2 separate regions of the Homo sapiens genome follow, and region 2 is linked to region 1. The links come from fine-mapping of genetic effects on gene expression. A gene starts in region 1. The other region holds a variant in brackets. All regions are shown on one strand. Distances are from middle to middle.

The links.
Region 2: its variant is fine-mapped to the expression of ADAP1 in whole blood (INTERVAL, PIP above 0.99). The same link has a PIP of 0.9 or more in breast, subcutaneous fat, sun-exposed skin, tibial nerve and visceral fat.

Annotation. Positions count from the first base shown.
Region 1 is chr7:950,033-958,406 of GRCh38, forward strand. ADAP1 (ArfGAP with dual PH domains 1) reads right to left here and starts at 4,648. Exons shown (of 11, transcript NM_006869.4): 1 at 4,364-4,648. The coding sequence starts at 4,445. It overlaps LOC124901569 (a long non-coding RNA gene), which reads left to right and starts at 4,822. Exons shown (of 2, transcript XR_007060178.1): 1 at 4,822-5,232; 2 at 5,336-5,458. RefSeq lists enhancers at 1-168, 3,098-3,709, 4,932-5,541 and silencers at 3,835-4,044, 4,335-4,824, 4,844-4,999, 4,855-4,954, 8,196-8,255.
Region 2 is chr7:903,698-911,949 of GRCh38, forward strand. It overlaps ADAP1 (ArfGAP with dual PH domains 1), which reads right to left. Exons shown (of 11, transcript NM_006869.4): 5 at 1,363-1,475; 6 at 429-575. Among named protein-coding and RNA genes, the nearest start is that of GET4, 31 kb to the left of the region's middle. RefSeq lists an enhancer at 4,005-4,703 and a silencer at 5,218-5,437. The variant C/T (reference allele first, on the strand shown) is at 3,902.

The DNA of each region.
Region 1 (8,374 bases):
GGAGCAGCCCAGTGTCCGCCTGCAGACAAACGGGCACACGCAATGTGGTTCATCCACACAGGGTATGATCCTGTCTTCACATGCAGGGAAATCCCAGCACTCGCCACAGCATCTGTGAACCTGGAGACGTTAGACTGAGTGAAACTGGCCAGTCACAAAAGAATGAATACCAGCCGGGCATGGTGGCTCACACCTGTAATCCCAGCACTTCGGGAGGCCGAGGCAGGCGGATCACAAGGTCAGGAGATCGAGACCGTCCTGGCTAACGTGGTGAAACCCCATCTCTACTAAAAATACAGAAAACTTAGCCGGGCATGGCAGCGTGCACCTGTAGTCCCAGCTACTCGGGAGGCTGAGGCAGGAGAATGGCATGAGCCTGGGAGGCGGAGCTTGCAGTGAGCTGAGAAGGTGCCACTGCACTCCAGCCTGGGCGACAGAATGAGACTCTGCCTCAAAAAAAAAAAAAAAAAAAAATGAATACCGCATGGTTTCACTTCTACAAGGTCCCTGGAGTCATAAGATTCATAGAGACAGAAAGTTGAGGCCAGGCACGGTGGCTCATGCCTGTAATCCCAGCCATTTGGGAGGCCAAGTTGGGAGGATGACCTGAGGTCAGGAGTTCAAGACCAGCCTGGCCAACATGGCGAAACCCTGTCTCTACCAAAAATACAAAAATTAGCCGGGCGTGGTGGCAGGCGCCTGTAATCCCAGCTACTCAGGGGACTGAGGCAGGAGAATCGTTTGAACCCAGGAGGCAGAGGTTGCAGTGAGCTGAAATGGCGCCACTGCATTCCAGCCTTGGGAACAGAGCAAGACTCCGTCTCAAAAAAAAAAAAAAAAAAAAAACAAGAAAAGAACAGAAAGTAGAAGGGTGGGTGCCCCGGACTGGGGAGAGGAAATCTGGAGCCCTTGTTGAATGGGGACAGAGCTTCAGTTTGGGAAGATGAGGAGGTTCTGGAGATGATGGTGGTGGCGGTGGCACGGTGAGTGAACGTGCTCAAGGCCCTGGAACTGTGCACTCGAAACGATGAGAAGGTAAATTATTATTTTTAAAAAATCCGGCCAGGCGCGGTGGCTCATGCCTGGAATCCCAGCACTTTGGGAGGCCGAGGCGGGTGGATCACGAGGTCAGGAGACGGAGACCATCCTGGCTAACATGGTGAAACCCCATCTCTACTAAAAATACAAAAATTAGCCGGGCGTGGTGGCGGGTGCCTGTAGTCCCAGCTACTCGGGAGGCTGAGGCAGGAGAATGGTGTGAACCTGGGAGGGGGAGCTTGCAGTGAGCCGAGATCGCACCACTGCAGTCCAGCCTGGGCGACAGAGCGAGACTCCGTCTCAAAAAAAAAAAAAAATATCCAACCTAGTTGGGCCGCTGCCCTGGGGAGTGAAGGGAGTCTGCCCAGCCCCCGCCCACACTCAGCAGCCTTCTTCCCACCCTCACCCATGCCGGCCAAATTCCTGAAACTGGGAGTTGGAGGTTGCAGTGAGCAAAGATCGTGCCACTGCACTGTAGCCTGGGTGACATCGAGAGACTGTCTTAAAAAAAAAAATTAGCTGGGCATGGTGGCATGGACCTGTAGTCCCAGCTACTCAGGAGGCTGAGGTGGGAGGATTGCTTGAGCCCTGGAGGCAGAGGCTGCAGTGAGTTGAGATTGTGCCACTGCACTCCAGCCTGGGTGACAGAGCGAGACCTTAAAATAAAAAAGAACAAAAGAGCTCAGACACCCCAGTCCTTCCGGGGCATCAGATGGCCTGAGACTCAAAGAGGACAATATGTGTGTTTTTCTTTTTTTTGAGACAGGGTCTCACTCTGGCCTAGGCTGGAGTGTGATCACGACTCACTGCAGCTTCCAACTCCTGGCCTCAAGCGATCCTCCGGCCTCGGCCTCCCAAAGCACTGGGATGACAGGCGTGAGCCACCGCGCCCGGTCCCTGTCCTCTGTTGCGATTTGGCAGGCAGCTCCAAGGATGTACGGAGGCACCCCTCCCTCCCCCAAACCCCCTCCCAGGATGGAGACCCCCACCCAGGTCTTGCAGGACAGTGGGTCCAGGCACGCCCCAACTCGCCCACCTGCCAGGCCTGTGATGAGAGGCTCTCTGGGTGGCCGCCGGGCGAGGCCCCCTGTTCAAGGTCAGGGGAACCCACTATTGGGACAGGTCATGGGGAGAGTTTGGAAGGAGCTTCTGTGGGGGCCGCAGAGACCCCAAGACTGCTTCCCTCACACGGCCAGTGGGTGGGGCCTGCTCAAGTCCACCCCAGCAGCCCCAGGCCTGGCGTTCAGAGGTGGTCTGGGACTGTCTGATGTCCTGCTGTCCAGGTCTGCACCAGCCGTGAGCCAGTGCACAGGACAGTGTTCTGAGGACAGCAGAACGTGCCGGCCACCCCAGCCCCCATCAACACTGGAGTGGCTCCTTGTCACCCAGCTGGGCCACAGCAGGTACAGGAGGCCCCAGAGCAGCTGGCATCAGCAAAGAAGCATAGAGCCCTCGAGGATGTGCCATGGGGTCATGGGGGGCTAGGCAGCCCCCTGCCTCCTGACACCGCCTGTTCCACCCTGTGGCCACAGCCCTGGGGAGCGGGGACAAGCAGAGCGGCCGGGTGTGGCTCATGTCCCCTAAGACAGCTCCCTTTGCAAGGCATCAGTCTCCCTGGCTGTGAAATGAGAGTGACCCCTCACAGCATCCCCCCTCCATGGCGCTACCCGACAGAGGAGACAAGTCACTGAGGTCATGGACAGATTCTGAAAAGGCAGAGGTGCGGCCCTCTACCCGGCAGCGTGGGGCATAGGGACGGCAGAGAACAGCTCTGGGGTGGGCCAGGCTGGAAGCTTAGCAGGTGGGCCGGGCACACCTGCACCCACTGGGAGGGGAGGACCACTGAAGGACCCAGCAGGCCAAGGAAGTCCCCTCTTCCTCCTGCCAGGCTGGGAGGCCCAGAGGGTGGCTGGAGAGGGGCCCTGAGTCCAGAGAAGCTGCTCCCAGGCTGTGTGGCCAGGGAGCAGAGGTTCAGAGGCAAGCCCAGCTCCCCTCCCCGTGGGCCACAGCAACCCCAGGCCAGGCCCTTTCCCACTGGCTTTCCTGGGGAGCGTTCCTGAACAGGAGGAAATAAAGGTCTGTGGGGAGAGAGTCTGGGGTGAGCCAGCCCAGGGGGCCACCCCCACCGCACCATTGCACGGGCCCTGTGGCCGTCCTGTCTCAGGAGACCATGGAAAGGCCGTGGGTCCTGCCTGTCTTTCCAGAAAAGCCTGTCGCTATCTCCCCTCTGGGACACCCCAGCTCCTGATGTGGCCTTTCCAGCCAAGCTGCAGCTGGACAGCAGCCACCACGACCTGGGGCTGGCAGAGACCCCTCCATCCCAGAGGGAATCAGGGACACCCCTTTTTCCGGGGTGTCCAGAGGCTGCATATTGAACCAGGGCCTTGGAGGCAAATGCAAGGTCTTCCCCCGCTCCCTCCCTGGGGGCCTCAGTCACCGCCGGTGAGTTTAGGTTTGTTCCGAGGGGCTTAGACTATTGGCCCCCAGATTCCTGGTGTGCCTGGGGTGGCGGGACTGCTCCGGCGGGGCCCTCTCTCCACAGCGCAGCCGGCCTGGGGCTGACAGCTCCCGAGCAGGGCAGGGCTGGTCTGGGCACTGGGCCCCGTTCACAGCCAATGACAGGACCAGTGGCCTGGAAGGGAGGGACTCCGCGCCTTTGGACTCCAGTGCCTTGAAATCCCACAGACCTGGGAACCGAGTCAGGGATGCCCGGCCGGGAGAACGAACGGGCGGGCGGCGGGTGGACCAGGACCTGCGTCCGGCCCCACCTCTCCCAGGCCTCACCTGTCCTGGCGCCCGCCCCGGAGCAGCCAGGTGCAGGGAGCCGGGGGCAGGGGCGCCGCTCACACCCAGGGACCCCCGGTGCGGGAAGGGCGTGAGGCATGACGTCACCGCGAGGTGGCCCCGGAGCCGGCGGACCCCACAGCCCAGCAGAGACCTCCGGCTGGCGGCCCGTTCCCTCCCTGCAGCCAGCCCCGATTTCCTCTTTCTGTGCGGAGCCCGAGCTTTCGCAACGCGGCGGGCGGTCCGCGGTGACCGTCAGACACGCAGCCCGGCGGGGGAGGGGAGGCGGCGGCAGGGGGGTTTCCGGGGGTCCTGGGGGGGGCCCCCCCGCTGCGCCCGGCCCGGGAAGACGTCCGGGTCCCCGCAGGTGCAGCCGGGCCCGGGCCCCATCCGAGCGCCGATCCGGCCCGGTGTTCAGCGCCGCCACCCCCGCGGCGTCCGCGCTCCCCCGCCCGGTCCCCGGGGCCCACCCAGGACCCGCCCGGCACCCCGCGCCCACCCCGGACCCACCCGGCCCCGCGCCCACCCGGCCCACACCTACCCGGGGCGCCGCAGTCCGCGCAGCGCGCGTTCCCCGGCCGCTGCAGCAGCTCCAGGACCGCCCTGCGCCGCTCCTTGGCCATGGCCGCGATGCGCCCGCGATGCCGATGCCGGGGCCGGGGCCGGGAGCGTCAGCCCGGCTCGCTAGGGCCCCGCGCAGGCCGCCCGCCGCCGCCGCCCCTGCGCCATCCCGGGCGGCCTCAGCCCGCGCGCCGGTTCCGCATTCCCGCCGCCCTCTGGGCTCCGCCGCCGCCGCTCGTGTCTCCGCCGCGGTCGCTGAGCGAGTGCCGGCGCGGGGCCCGGGGCGCACGCTGCGCTCTGGCCGGCAAGGCCCGCGGGCGGCCCCCAGCGGTGCAGGCGAGCGTGTGGCCTCCTCCCTCGGCCGCTCCGGCGCCCCCAGCCCGCGCGCCCCGGGGACCCGCTGGGAAATCGCCCGCCGCCCGCCCCCCATCCGCGCGCAGCGTCCCACCTGCCTGGGCGCGAGGCCGCCCCAAAACCTGGCCGGCCTGGGTGGGACCCTCGTGCCGCCGCGCGCGGTGGGACGGAGCCTGCACACCTACTGTGGGGGGCGCAGAGGGCACCTGCCGAGCCCCCCAAGACCATGGGCATGGGGGTGCTCGTGGAAGGCAGGTGTGCGTGTCCTGTGCTACGGACCAGGACCAGGGCGCTCACACCATCCCTGCCTGGGAGGGACGGCCAGCAGGTGACAAACGCCAGCGTCCCAGGGCACTGAGGCCACACAGGGCCCAGACGGAGCCTCCCCCTGAGACCCACCCAGCCGCCCACCACCCACAGATGGGACCCTCTGGGCACCCCTCCCACTCAGGCAGGCTGAGGGGCCCCGCCGGGACTTCACATGGGGGCTGACAGGTAACAAAAAACCTGGTTTTGATGTCACCTCTTCCCAGACTCGCGTGCCCTTCCTCTGCACACCCCAGCATCTTTTCAAATTCTTTCCATTTTCTTCTTGCAGGGTTAATGCAGTACACCCGGCTGAAAACAAACTGGAACATACCAGACTGAAAAAGGAAAGCCTCTCCCCACTGCCTTCCAGGCAACCACTGTTAACAAATTCCTCAGCACCTTCCAGAACGAACGTCTGAGGCCTGTAGCCTTTCATTTATTTATTCATTTATCGAGACAGGGTTTTGGCTAACGGCTGTAATCCCAGCACTTTGGGAGACCCTGGCGGGTGGATCACTTGAGCTCAGGAGTTTGAGACCAGCCTGGGCAACATGGTGAAACCCCGTCTCTACTAAATACAAAGAAATTAGCCAGGCGTGGTGGCGCATGCCTGCAATCCCAGCTACTTGGGAGGCTGAGGCAGGAGAATCGCATGAACCTGGCAGGCAGAGGTTGCAGCGAGCCGAGATTGCGCCATTGCACTCCAGCCTGGGCAACAAGAGTGAAACTCCGTTTCAAAAAAAAAAAAAAAAAAAAAAAACCAAACAAACAAACTCAAAAAAAGTTCAACTGAACCATGACTTGTTCACCCAGTCACTGGCATAGGGGCATTTAGAGCGTTTTGAATGCATCAGAATCATGGTCTACACAACCTCATCTTTGCAAGAGTTTTGTGTGGATTTGCTCTCAAAGTGGCATCGCTGGGGCAATGGTATGGGATGTGGAATGGCCTCCACTGAGGCTGCACTGACCAGAGTGCCACCAAAGGCACCTGTCCCCCTGCTCCAGCTGACGTGGAATCATGGAGCTGCTTAAGCTCTGTCTACCTGAAGCAGAACGCGGCAGCCCGTTTTGGTCTGTGTCTCTGGGATCTGTGCCCTGTGGCATCACGTGCTCTTTCCCTGTAACCGTTCACATGGGTCTTTCTCCTCCCTCAGACGGGAGGCTTTGGGGTGGGGACAGGTGGCATTTTCATCTCTGGGTCCCTGTGCCAGGCTCGGAATCCACCACACAGCATGAGCTTGGAGAATGTCGCCTAATAAAGACAGACGAACATTAATAGCAGCAGCTCAGCACTAGGTATTAGGAGAAATAGCCTGACTTGTATTTTCTATTTTCTTTTCTTTTCTTTTCTTTTTTTCCTTTTTTTTTTTTTTTTTTTGAGACAGGGTTTTGGTCTATCGCCCAGGCTGGAGTGCAGTGGCACGATCTTAGCTCACTGCAACCTCTGCTTCCTGGGGTCAGGTGATTCTCCTGCCTCAGCCTCCTGAGTAGCTGGGACCACAAATGGGTGCCACCATGCCCAGGTATATTTTTATTTTTTGGTAGAGACAGGGTTTCACCATGTTGCCCAGGCTGGTCTCGAACACCTGACTTCACGTGATCTGCCTGCCTTAGCCTCTGAAAGTGCTGGGATTACAGGCCTGAGCCACCACGCCTGGCTTGACGTGTATTTTCTTTTTTCTTTTTTTTTTTTTTGAGACAGAGTCTTGCTCTGTCACCCAGGCTGGAGTGCAGTGGTGCGATCTCGGCTCACTGCAAGCTCCGCCTCCCGGGTTCACACCATTCTCCTGCCTCAGCCTCCCCAGCAGCTGGGACACAGGTGCATGCCACCACGCCCGGCTAATTTTTTTGTATTTTTAGTAGAGACGGGGTTTCACCGTGTTAGCCAGGATGCTCTCGATCTCCTGACCTCGTGATCCGCCTGCCTAGGCCTCCCAAAGTGCTGGTATTATGGGCGTGAGCCACCGCGACCGGCCGACATGTATTTTCTTATTAAAGCCCCATTTTCAGCTGGGAAGACTGAGGCACGGGGAGGTTCGATCCCTTGCTGGAGGCCACACACCTCAGGACTGGAATATACATAAAACAATATAACAAAGCAACACACCCTAACATAGCCGTTACCCAAGGTCCCCAAAGACGGGGAGGCCATCATACAAGGCATAGAAAAGGCAGCAGGGAGGCCTCAGGGGAGCCGGTGCCCAACAGGCCAGAGCTTCTGGCACAAGCCAAGGCCATCTACTGCCTGCTGTTCCGGGGCCTCCTCCGTGGGGCAGCTCCAGCAGGCGAGTGTCTTGCCTTCTCTGTCCTTCCATCCCGCTAAGGGAACTGTGGCATTGCTCGGGGGGCAGGAGGGCGTGAGGATGAGACAGAGGTGGGTGAACCCCTCAGATCTAAGAGATGTCGGGGCTGAGGGGGATTCTTCCAAAGAGGAGGCTGCTCGGCCGAGATCCGCAAGTACCTGCCTGGACCCGAGAGCACAGCCGTCCTGAAATCCTGCTGCCCTGACTGGCTGTGGTCAGGGCTGGGCGGGGCAGTAGGGGAGCCCAGGACTCAGGAAGAATCCGGAAGGTAACAGCATAGCTCAGGGTGGGCCAGACCCAGACCAGTGCTGGTCAAAGGCTGTTCCGGCCAGCAGCGGCTGGCGAGGGGCCTGGACAGGCGGCGTGCCTGCTCCTGCTCATGCCCAGTGGCCTACAAGCTCTGCTGAGCCTCCTGCCCCTTGTCACTGACCCGCACGGCTGCACCAGGGACCCTGACACTCATTCCTCAAGCATCTCCCTAGTCCAGAGCCAGAGGCAGCCGCCTCCTGTGACCACTCGGCCACACAGCAGACCCTGGGCAGGGGGCTCCCGAGAGCAGGGCGAGCTCCTCCAGCGTCGCCTGAGCACGGGGCCTGCGCGTGGTAGGCCAGCAGGCGACTTTGATTGGAAGCTGGCTCCTCCCAGGCCTGCAGCTGCGGGGTGAGCCTCTCAGCACAGGCAGAAGGGGGCTCTCCCCAGGGAAGGGGCAAATGGACTGAGGCCGGGCTGGGCCCTGCTCTGCGACCATCTTGCCCAACAGTCAGCCGAGCTTGCTCAACCAGGAGCTGCCTCAGGGGAGGGGAGGTTGTGGAGGTTCACTTCCCTCTCCACCCCGCACAGGGGCCGGGGCTAATTCAGTCAAATTATCTGCGCTTGGACAGCGTCTGGCACGATGGCCGTGAGCTCAGTAGGCCGCCCTGCAGGCCAAGCAGGGGTCTTCAACATCCAGGCTCAGCGCAGGGGTGGGCAGCTCCTGGCTCTACCTGCCTCAGCTGTGGGGATGGGGGTCGTGATGTTGGGCC
Region 2 (8,252 bases), 46 kb before region 1:
CTACCCAAACCACCCCAGAGCCGGCTACCGTCCACATCTCCTCCCCGTAGGACCCCAGTTCCCCCCGAGGTCCCCTCTGGGCATTGTGGGGGCGGTGGATCCTCTAGCCCGAGCTGGCAGCCCCCACTGACAGGGCCAAGCTGGGTGGCCCCAGAGACAGCGTGGTGATCCGGCTCCTGGGCAGCCCGGCCCTGGGAAGCTGCCTTCCTGCACCTGTCTTCCCATGCTGCCCGGCGCCAGTGCCCACACTCCCACACGTCCAAGCACCCGCCTTCCCACGCTGCCCAGCCCGACTTCCCGCCTTCTCATGCCGCCTAGCTCAAGTGCCTACCCTCCCGTACCGTCCAAGCACCCACCTTCCTGCGCCACCCGGGCCTGAGGGCCCACCCTCCTGTGCCACCCGGGCCCGAGTGCTCGCCAGCACCCACCTTCCCGTCCTCATGGTAGATGAAGATGTTACGGGTGCTGTTGTCCTTCAGGTAGGTGACCTGCAGGCCGTGGGGGTGGCCGATCTTGGCCGGCTGGAAGGTGGCGTTCAGGTGCTCGATCTTCATCACGGCCTTGGGCTCCTTGGCCTGAGAAGGGGTGGGGTCTAAGCACCTCACAGGGGCCGTCGTCCAAGCTCAAGGGAGCAGGAAGGGCAGACCCTGTGGGTGCTGGCGGCGCACCTGCTGTGCTGTGTGGCTTTGGGCAAGTTACTTAAGCGCTCTGAGCCTTGGCCTCCCGGTCTGTAAGCAGAAGGTAACAGCACCTCCCTCCCAGGAGTGATGGGGACCTCAACGACACTGTGCAGGTGGCACTTGACATCAGACACTGCACCTCCCTCCCCGGGGGCAGCCCCGGGCCCCACACGGCACGGCAGCTCCCACAGGGGCAGGCCCCAGCCACCAGCCCACCTCCAGCCAGTGCCCGCCACGGCTCAGGGCGGGTGCTTCTGACCATCAGCCCATGGGTCTGGGGCCACCTTGTGAAGACCCCACTGTTCTTGCCAATGTGTTTGTCCTGTCCCAGTCCAGTCTCCCCAGGGTACCTCCAGGAAAACTAGGGGCTTTCTGGGGTCCTGGCTGGCTCCAGAGGGGCCCAGTGACTAGGTTCTCCCTCTCCCACGGCTGGGCCTGAGTTCAGGGGGCCCCGCCCGGCCGCCCAGGCTCCTGGAAAGCCTCAGCTGCCCCACCCTGGGGGACGCTGGGTCCGGCACACAGAGGCTCAGCCCAACACAGGCCGGTTCTCCTGGAGCGTCCCCATCGGGGGGGGCAGCAGGGAGGGCAGCTGCGGATGGACGCGGCCACCACAGGCCCCAGTGTGGGAGGCCGGGATGCCGCCCTGGGACAGGCCCCCACCCCACCCCCGTCTGTGACTCACATCATTTCTGTTGAAATACTTCAGAGCACCCTCTCGTTCTGTCAGCACAAACTTCCGGCTCAAAAACTGCCCGTTGTCCCGGCCACGCTTCCAGAGAAAACCCTCACGGTACCCTGTGGGGGAAAGGGGACACGAGTCGGTGACAGTGGATGGGGGGGAGGAAACAAAAGGAGTGACGATGGACAGGACAGAGGGGACATGGGGAGAAGACACGGGGGACACGGACGGGGGACACGGACAGGGGGAGACGGACGGGGAGAGGGGACATGGAGGAGACAGGGAGATAGGAAGATGGGCAGGGAAAGGGAAAGGGAAAGGAGAAAGGAGAAAGGAGAAAGGAGAAAGGAGAAAGGGAGAAAGAGAAAGGAGAAAGGAGAAAGGGAGAAAGGGAGAAAGGGAAAGGAGAAAGGAGAAAGGGAAAGGAGAAAGGAGAAGGGAGAAGGGAGAAGGGAGAAGGGAGAAGGGAGAAGGGAGAAGGGAGAAGGGAGAAGGGAGAAAGGAGAAAGGAGAAAGGAGAAAGGAGAAAGGAGAAAGGAGAAAGGAGAAAGGAGAAAGGAGAAAGGGAAAGGAGAAAGGGAAAGGAGAAAGGGAAAGGAGAAAGGAGAAAGGAGAAAGGGAAAGGAGAAAGGAGAAAGGAGAAAGGAGAAAGGAGAAAGGAGAAAGGGAAAGGAGAAAGGGAAAGGAGAAGGGAGAAGGGAGAAGGGAGAAAGGAGAAAGGAGAAAGGAGAAAGGAGAAAGGAGAAAGGAGAAAGGAGAAGGGAGAAGGGAGAAGGGAGAAGGGAGAAGGGAGAAGGGAGAAGGGAGAAGGGAGAAGGGAGAAAGGAGAAAGGAGAAAGGAGAAAGGAGAAAGGGAAAGGAGAAAGGGAGAAAGGAGAAAGGGAGAAAGGAGAAAGGGAGAAAGGAGAAAGGGAGAAAGGAGAAAGGGAAAGGAGAAAGGAGAAAGGAGAAAGGAGAAAGGGAAAGGAGAAAGGAGAAAGGGAAAGGAGAAAGGAGAAAGGAGAAAGGGAGAAAGGAGAAAGGGAAAGGAGAAAGGGAGAAAGGAGAAAGGGAGAAAGGAGAAAGGGAGAAAGGAGAAAGGGAGAAAGGAGAAAGGGAAAGGAGAAAGGAGAAAGGAGAAAGGGAAAGGAGAAAGGAGAAAGGAGAAAGGAGAAAGGAGAAAGGGAAAGGAGAAAGGGAGAAAGGAGAAAGGGAGAAAGGAGAAAGGGAGAAAGGAGAAAGGGAGAAAGGAGAAAGGGAAAGGAGAAAGGAGAAAGGAGAAAGGAGAAAGGGAAAGGAGAAAGGAGAAAGGGAAAGGAGAAAGGGAGAAAGAGAAAGGAGAAAGGAGAAAGGAGAAAGGAGAAAGGGAAAGGAGAAAGGGAGAAAGGGAAAGGAGAAAGGAGAAAGGAGAAAGGAGAAAGGGAAAGGAGAAAGGAGAAAGGAGAAAGGAGAAAGGGAAAGGAGAAAGGGAGAAAGGAGAAAGGAGAAAGGGAAAGGAGAAAGGAGAAGGGAGAAAGGGAGAAAGGGAAAGGAGAAAGGGAAAGGAGAAAGGAGAAAGGAGAAGGGAGAAAGGGAGAAAGGGAAAGGAGAAAGGAGAAAGGAGAAAGGGAAAGGAGAAAGGGGGCGGGAAAGGGGACATGGACAGGGGACACGGGGGACATGGACATGGGGGACGGGACATCGGGGACGGGACATGGGGGACAGAGTACATAGGGGACATGGACAGGGGACATGGGGGACAGGGGACACGGGGGACGGGACAGGGGACATGGGGGGACATGGGTCAGATGGTGATGGTGGATGGTTGGTGAGGGGATATGACAGTGGACCAGCGCTGTTGGCTGCAACCCTGGCCCAAGCCAGCCTGAGGACGGCCTGGATGAGCGGGACTCCAGCTGTCCTTTACTGGCCCCCAGGGACCCTCCCCATCCTGAGTGGACATGGCCAGAGCCACCATGGGCAGAGGCAGGGCTGGGTCCAACCTCGTGCTGCCCGGGAGGACCAGGCTGGCCTCCTCCCTCCTCCCTCAGCCGTCCGCAGCTGCTGGGTCCAGGTGGTGCCATCCCCTCTTTTTTCAGGAAAGCTCATCTGAGGGGAGTCCAGCTCAAGCCCTCATCTCCGCCTGTGGCCTCACGCACACCACACACAGCCACAGAAAAGTAGCCCGGGCATCCCCCTGGGAGCCTAAGCACCTGGACACGCCACCTTCTATGGCAAAACACACCGTGCACGGGTGGTTAGGACGCTGCTGTGGCAGACGATCACAGGGGAGGGAGGCAGAGATATGAGGACAGGAGGGAAGGGGACGTGGCCGTGGAAACTGAGGCCAGAGGGGGCCCCAGAGCCCAGGAGCACCAGGGAGAGGCCAGAGGACCCGTCCTGAGCCCAGAACCAGCTCTGCCCACTCCGAGTCTCGGGCCCGTGGGATCGTCCTGGAGCTCTGCCAGAGCTGTGGGAGAACAAACACGTGTGGCTTCACGTCACTGAGCTGCGGTCAGTGACCCACGTGTGGCCACTCAGAGGGGCGTTCCCATCCCCCCCAGGCCCCGCTCCCACTTCTGCT[C/T]CCTGTCCGTGGTTCCTATCGTTGCCCGTCCTTTCTCCTGCTCTGGAACTCTGTGTCCTGCGGACTCAGATGCAGCTTCTTCTATGGCCCTGGCTGTCCCGCCCCAACAGCATGTGGCTTGCAGCATCCGTGTCCTGGGCTCCGTCTGCCAGGCCTTGGGTCGCGTGCAGGTCCCGCCGTTGGCAGCAGCTGCGTGGCCAGGGTCGAGCAGGTCCTCAGTGGGTGCAGACTCTCCTGGGATCACGGGGCCGTCTGCCAAGCATCCCCAGTGGGCGCCGCCTCTCCGGAGGTCGCGGGGCCGTCTGCCGAGGAGCCGTCTGCCGAGCATCCGTGGCCCCTCCAGGGGTCGCGGGGCCGTCTGCCCAGTGTCCGTGGGCCCTTCCCGGGGTCGTGGGGCCGTCTGCTGAGCATCCGTGGGCCTGTCCGTGACCCCTCAGTGACTTCAGAGAGCACTTGCTTGGGGACAGCATCCCATCCTGCTGGCCATGTGGCCTGGGAGCCCCGGTCATCTGAGGGCAGGGGCTGCTGACCTACGCCACAGGGACGCGAGGGGGCTGTGGGCTCCAGGCGGGGCTAAACAGCCCCCTGCAGCAGCCAACAGGCCAGACAGAGGCTCAGATTGCAGACACCGCCCATCAGCCCTGACCACCAAAGCCCCCTGCTCCCCAGCATCCCCTCCCCAGCTCAGACAGCCCCATCCCGACACCAGAGACCAGGGGCTATTTTCTCTGCTGAGATGCAAGCCATAAAACGCCTGGCGTTGGGGAGGGGACAGCTGGTGCCCTCGGGGAGGGGGCCCTGGGCTGTCTTGGATGGTGCCAGACGGGGCCTGCTCCCCTCACTGCCCGGAGCTCCCCGCTCCCCAAGCCTCTACAAGGCTGCTGCCCCAGCCCCGTGCGCACAGCAGCAGCCAGGAGCCCCCTTCCCATGGAAGAACCCCCTTCTCCTGCTTCTCACTGTGAGAGCGAGGCCACCAGTGTCCCTCAGACCCAAGTAAGGCCTGCTCAGAACGCCTGTTGACTCAGTGAGCCCCTGCCCAGGCACAGCTGGGTGTCCCCACGGCTCTGCCTCCGACATCAGGACCTCTTTGGACGCGGCGCTTCGTGGCTGAGGGTGGACGCCGAGAAGTGCCCGGGGAGGCATCGCAGCAGCGGGCCCAGCGGCGCTTCCCGGCCTCTGCCGCTCACGGCCTTGTGTGCACCCCGGGGAGCCTCCAAGGCGTGCGTGTCCGTGTCACCAATGCAGACGACAAGTTTGGGCCACCTCGCCCACGGGGGTGGAGCTGGCTGGGTCCAGTGTGTCGGTTCCACAGACCCCTGCCCAGGACACAGCGGGGGCCCCTTCCAGCGACCGGGCTCCCTAGGCCACAGGGTGGGGACGCGCCCCTGCCATGCCCGCCGCGCCCAGCAGGTGACAGCAGTGCTCCGGAAGCGCGCAGGCCGCGGGGTCTGGGAGGCCACTGCCCCTCTGCACGCGCGCAGCTGCTCCGGTGTTCTCGGGGTCCAGACGCCAGCGGGAACCCCGGTCCTCCCGACAGCAGGCGCCAGCGGGAACCCCGGTCCTCCCGACAGCAGGCGCCAGCGGGAACCCCGGACCTCCCGACAGCAGGCGCCAGCGGGAACCCCGGTCCTCCCGACAGCAGGCGCCAGCGGGAACCCCGGACCTCCCGACAGCAGGCGCCAGCGGGAACCCCGGTCCTCCCGACAGCAGGCGCCAGCGGGAACCCCGGTCCTCCCGACAGCAGGCGCCAGCGGGAACCCCGGTCCTCCCGACAGCAGGCGCCAGCGGGAACCCCGGTCCTCCCGACAGCAGGCGCCAGCGGGAACCCCGGTCCTCCCGACAGCAGGCGCCAGGACGCCGCATTCCAGGGGCAATGACGACGCAGGAGTGTATTTCAGGACGGCGCTGGCCACGGTCCCGGACGCGCCCCACGCCCAGTCCAGACCTCAGGCTGAGCCTCTGCTCTCCCCATGCCTGGCCAGCCCCTTGGCCTCGCTGGGGAGGGCCAGGACCTCAGGGGCCTGCAGCCCCCAGTCGGCACCAGCAACAGCCAGTGAGACGGGGCTTCTCCCCACAGAGCAGCCCCTCACACGGCAGCGTCCTGGACAGCCGGGTGGGCTGTGGCCAGAAATGGCCATTTTCTCTTAAAGGACTCGTGAGTCCTGGGGCAGGACTCGACCAGTATTTATCAAACAGCTACCGCGTGCCGCGCCCTGCTGTGAGCTGGTCCCGCTGTGTGTCGGGTCCTATGGTGTGGGGTGGGGGGGGTTCTACTGCACACCAGGCCCTACTGTGTGCCGGTCCCACTGTGTGCCAGGTCTTGTCCCACCTGTGGGGAGCTGGGTCCAGTCCACACCCCATGCCCTGCTCAGACGCCTCTGAGGAGCCCTTCTGCCCACCGCACGGCTAAGAGCAGGAAAGACGTTCAGCATCGCCATGACCCACGAGAACGGCAAAACCAAACCAGTGTGCACACACAGGCGCCCGACTGTGGGCGGGGACGCCGGCCCTTCCACGCTGCCCGTGGGGATGTAAGGTGCCCCAGTCCCTGGAAAGCAGCCAGGCCGTTTCTTCCACCACAGTGAAGCGCGCACATCACGTGCCTCAGAGAGAAGTGAAATCCGAGGAAACAGGAACAGCCTTCACATAAAGCCCACACCCGTTTACGAGGCTTTTTTTTTTTTTTCCCCACCCAGGCTGGAGTGCAGGGGCACTATCACAGCTCACTGCAGCCTTGACCTTCCGGGCTCAAGTGATCCTCCAGCCTTGGCCTCCCGAGTAGCTGGGACCACAGATGCACGCCACCACACCCGGCTAAGTTCTGTATTTTTTTGTAGAGATGGGAGCTCACTGCGTTGCCCAGGCTGGTCTCGAACTTCTGAGCTCAGGTGACCCTCCTGCCTCTCCTCCCACCATACTGGGGTTGCAGCGTGAGCCCCACGCCTGGCCCGAGACTGCTGGGTCTTGGATTTGTCAGAGCTGGGACTGCACTCTAAATAGGATATGCAAAGTAGATGTAAATCACACCTCACGTATGTGATTTATATGCTAATTGTCTTGTAAACTGGGGCAGGGAAGCACGTGGCCCTGCTCTGAGTGACAGCTCACAGGGTGGTGGACCCTCTGGGGTGGGAACTGCATCCCCATATCTCATGGGGCCTCTGGCCTTCCACAGGGAGGGGTGCACCATGGATGGGTGGCCTCTGAGAACGGGGCCGAGGCCCTGATCACTGCACCCCGGCCGTCCCTGTGAAGGGCCTGGACCTGGCTTCCGGCCTTTGGGTCCTAGTGGCTCCTGCCCTCCCTCAGGAGGCAAACACCGGAGCCCACGGCAGAGCAGTGTCTCCTTGCTGGGTAAGGCCTTAGAGTTGAAGGCCTCCTCTGTGAGCCCGCACAGGGCTCCGTCTCTCCCTGCCTGGCCCGTCCACCCACGCTCTCCGACCCATTAATGCACCTTCTCCAGGTTGGTGCGTCTGGGGCCGGCAGAGGCTGAGAACCAGCGGGCCGTATCCTGCGGAGGGCTCCAGGTCCCAGCTTCGCCCTGCGTGGAGCTCTCTCTCCAAACAGCCAGGACAGGGAGGCTTCCCTGTTCCCAGGGGTGAGGCCAGAGGGTGGACGAGGGCTCCTGGGGTCAGCTCTCACCCTGTTCCTATTCTCATATAGCCCCCAGCATGGGGCCCGGCCCCCGACAGGCCTGGAGAGACCCCCCCACTCACACACGGGTTCACAGTTTCCACAGCGCCTTCCTGCCCAGAGTGACGTGTGGATGCCCCCATCCCCGCCAGGCTGCCCAGGCTGCAGGAGGGGCCACCCTCAGGGCCAAGTCAGCCCCAGGGTACCCCCCTCCCCAAGCCCCAAACCCTGAGGCCCCCACACAGGGGCCCCAGCGCCCAAGAACAGCGAACCCTGACTCCTGTAAGACAAACATGCCAGGAAAGGGGCGGGGATCACACGGAGGGCCAGGAAGGGGGCGGGGGTCCCACGGAGGGCCAGGAAGGGGGCGGGGGTCCCACGGAGGGCCAGGAAGGGGGCGGGGGTCCCACGGAGGGCCAGGAAGGGGGCGGGGGTCCCACGGAGGGCCAGGAAGGGGGCGGGGGTCCCACGGAGGGCCAGGAAGGGGGCGGGGGTCCCACGGAGGGCCAGGAAGGGGGCGGGGGTCCCACGGAGGGCCAGGAAGGGGGCGGGGGTCCCACGGAGGGCCAGGAAGGGGGCGGGGGACCCACGGAGGGCCAGGAGCCGACACCCACCCAGAGAGGGGCAATGGGGCAGCCCTACCACCTCTGGCCAGGCCCCAAACACCCGTCCCCCCGAGGGGCAGCCCCACAGCTCTGGCCTGGCCCCAAACACCCGT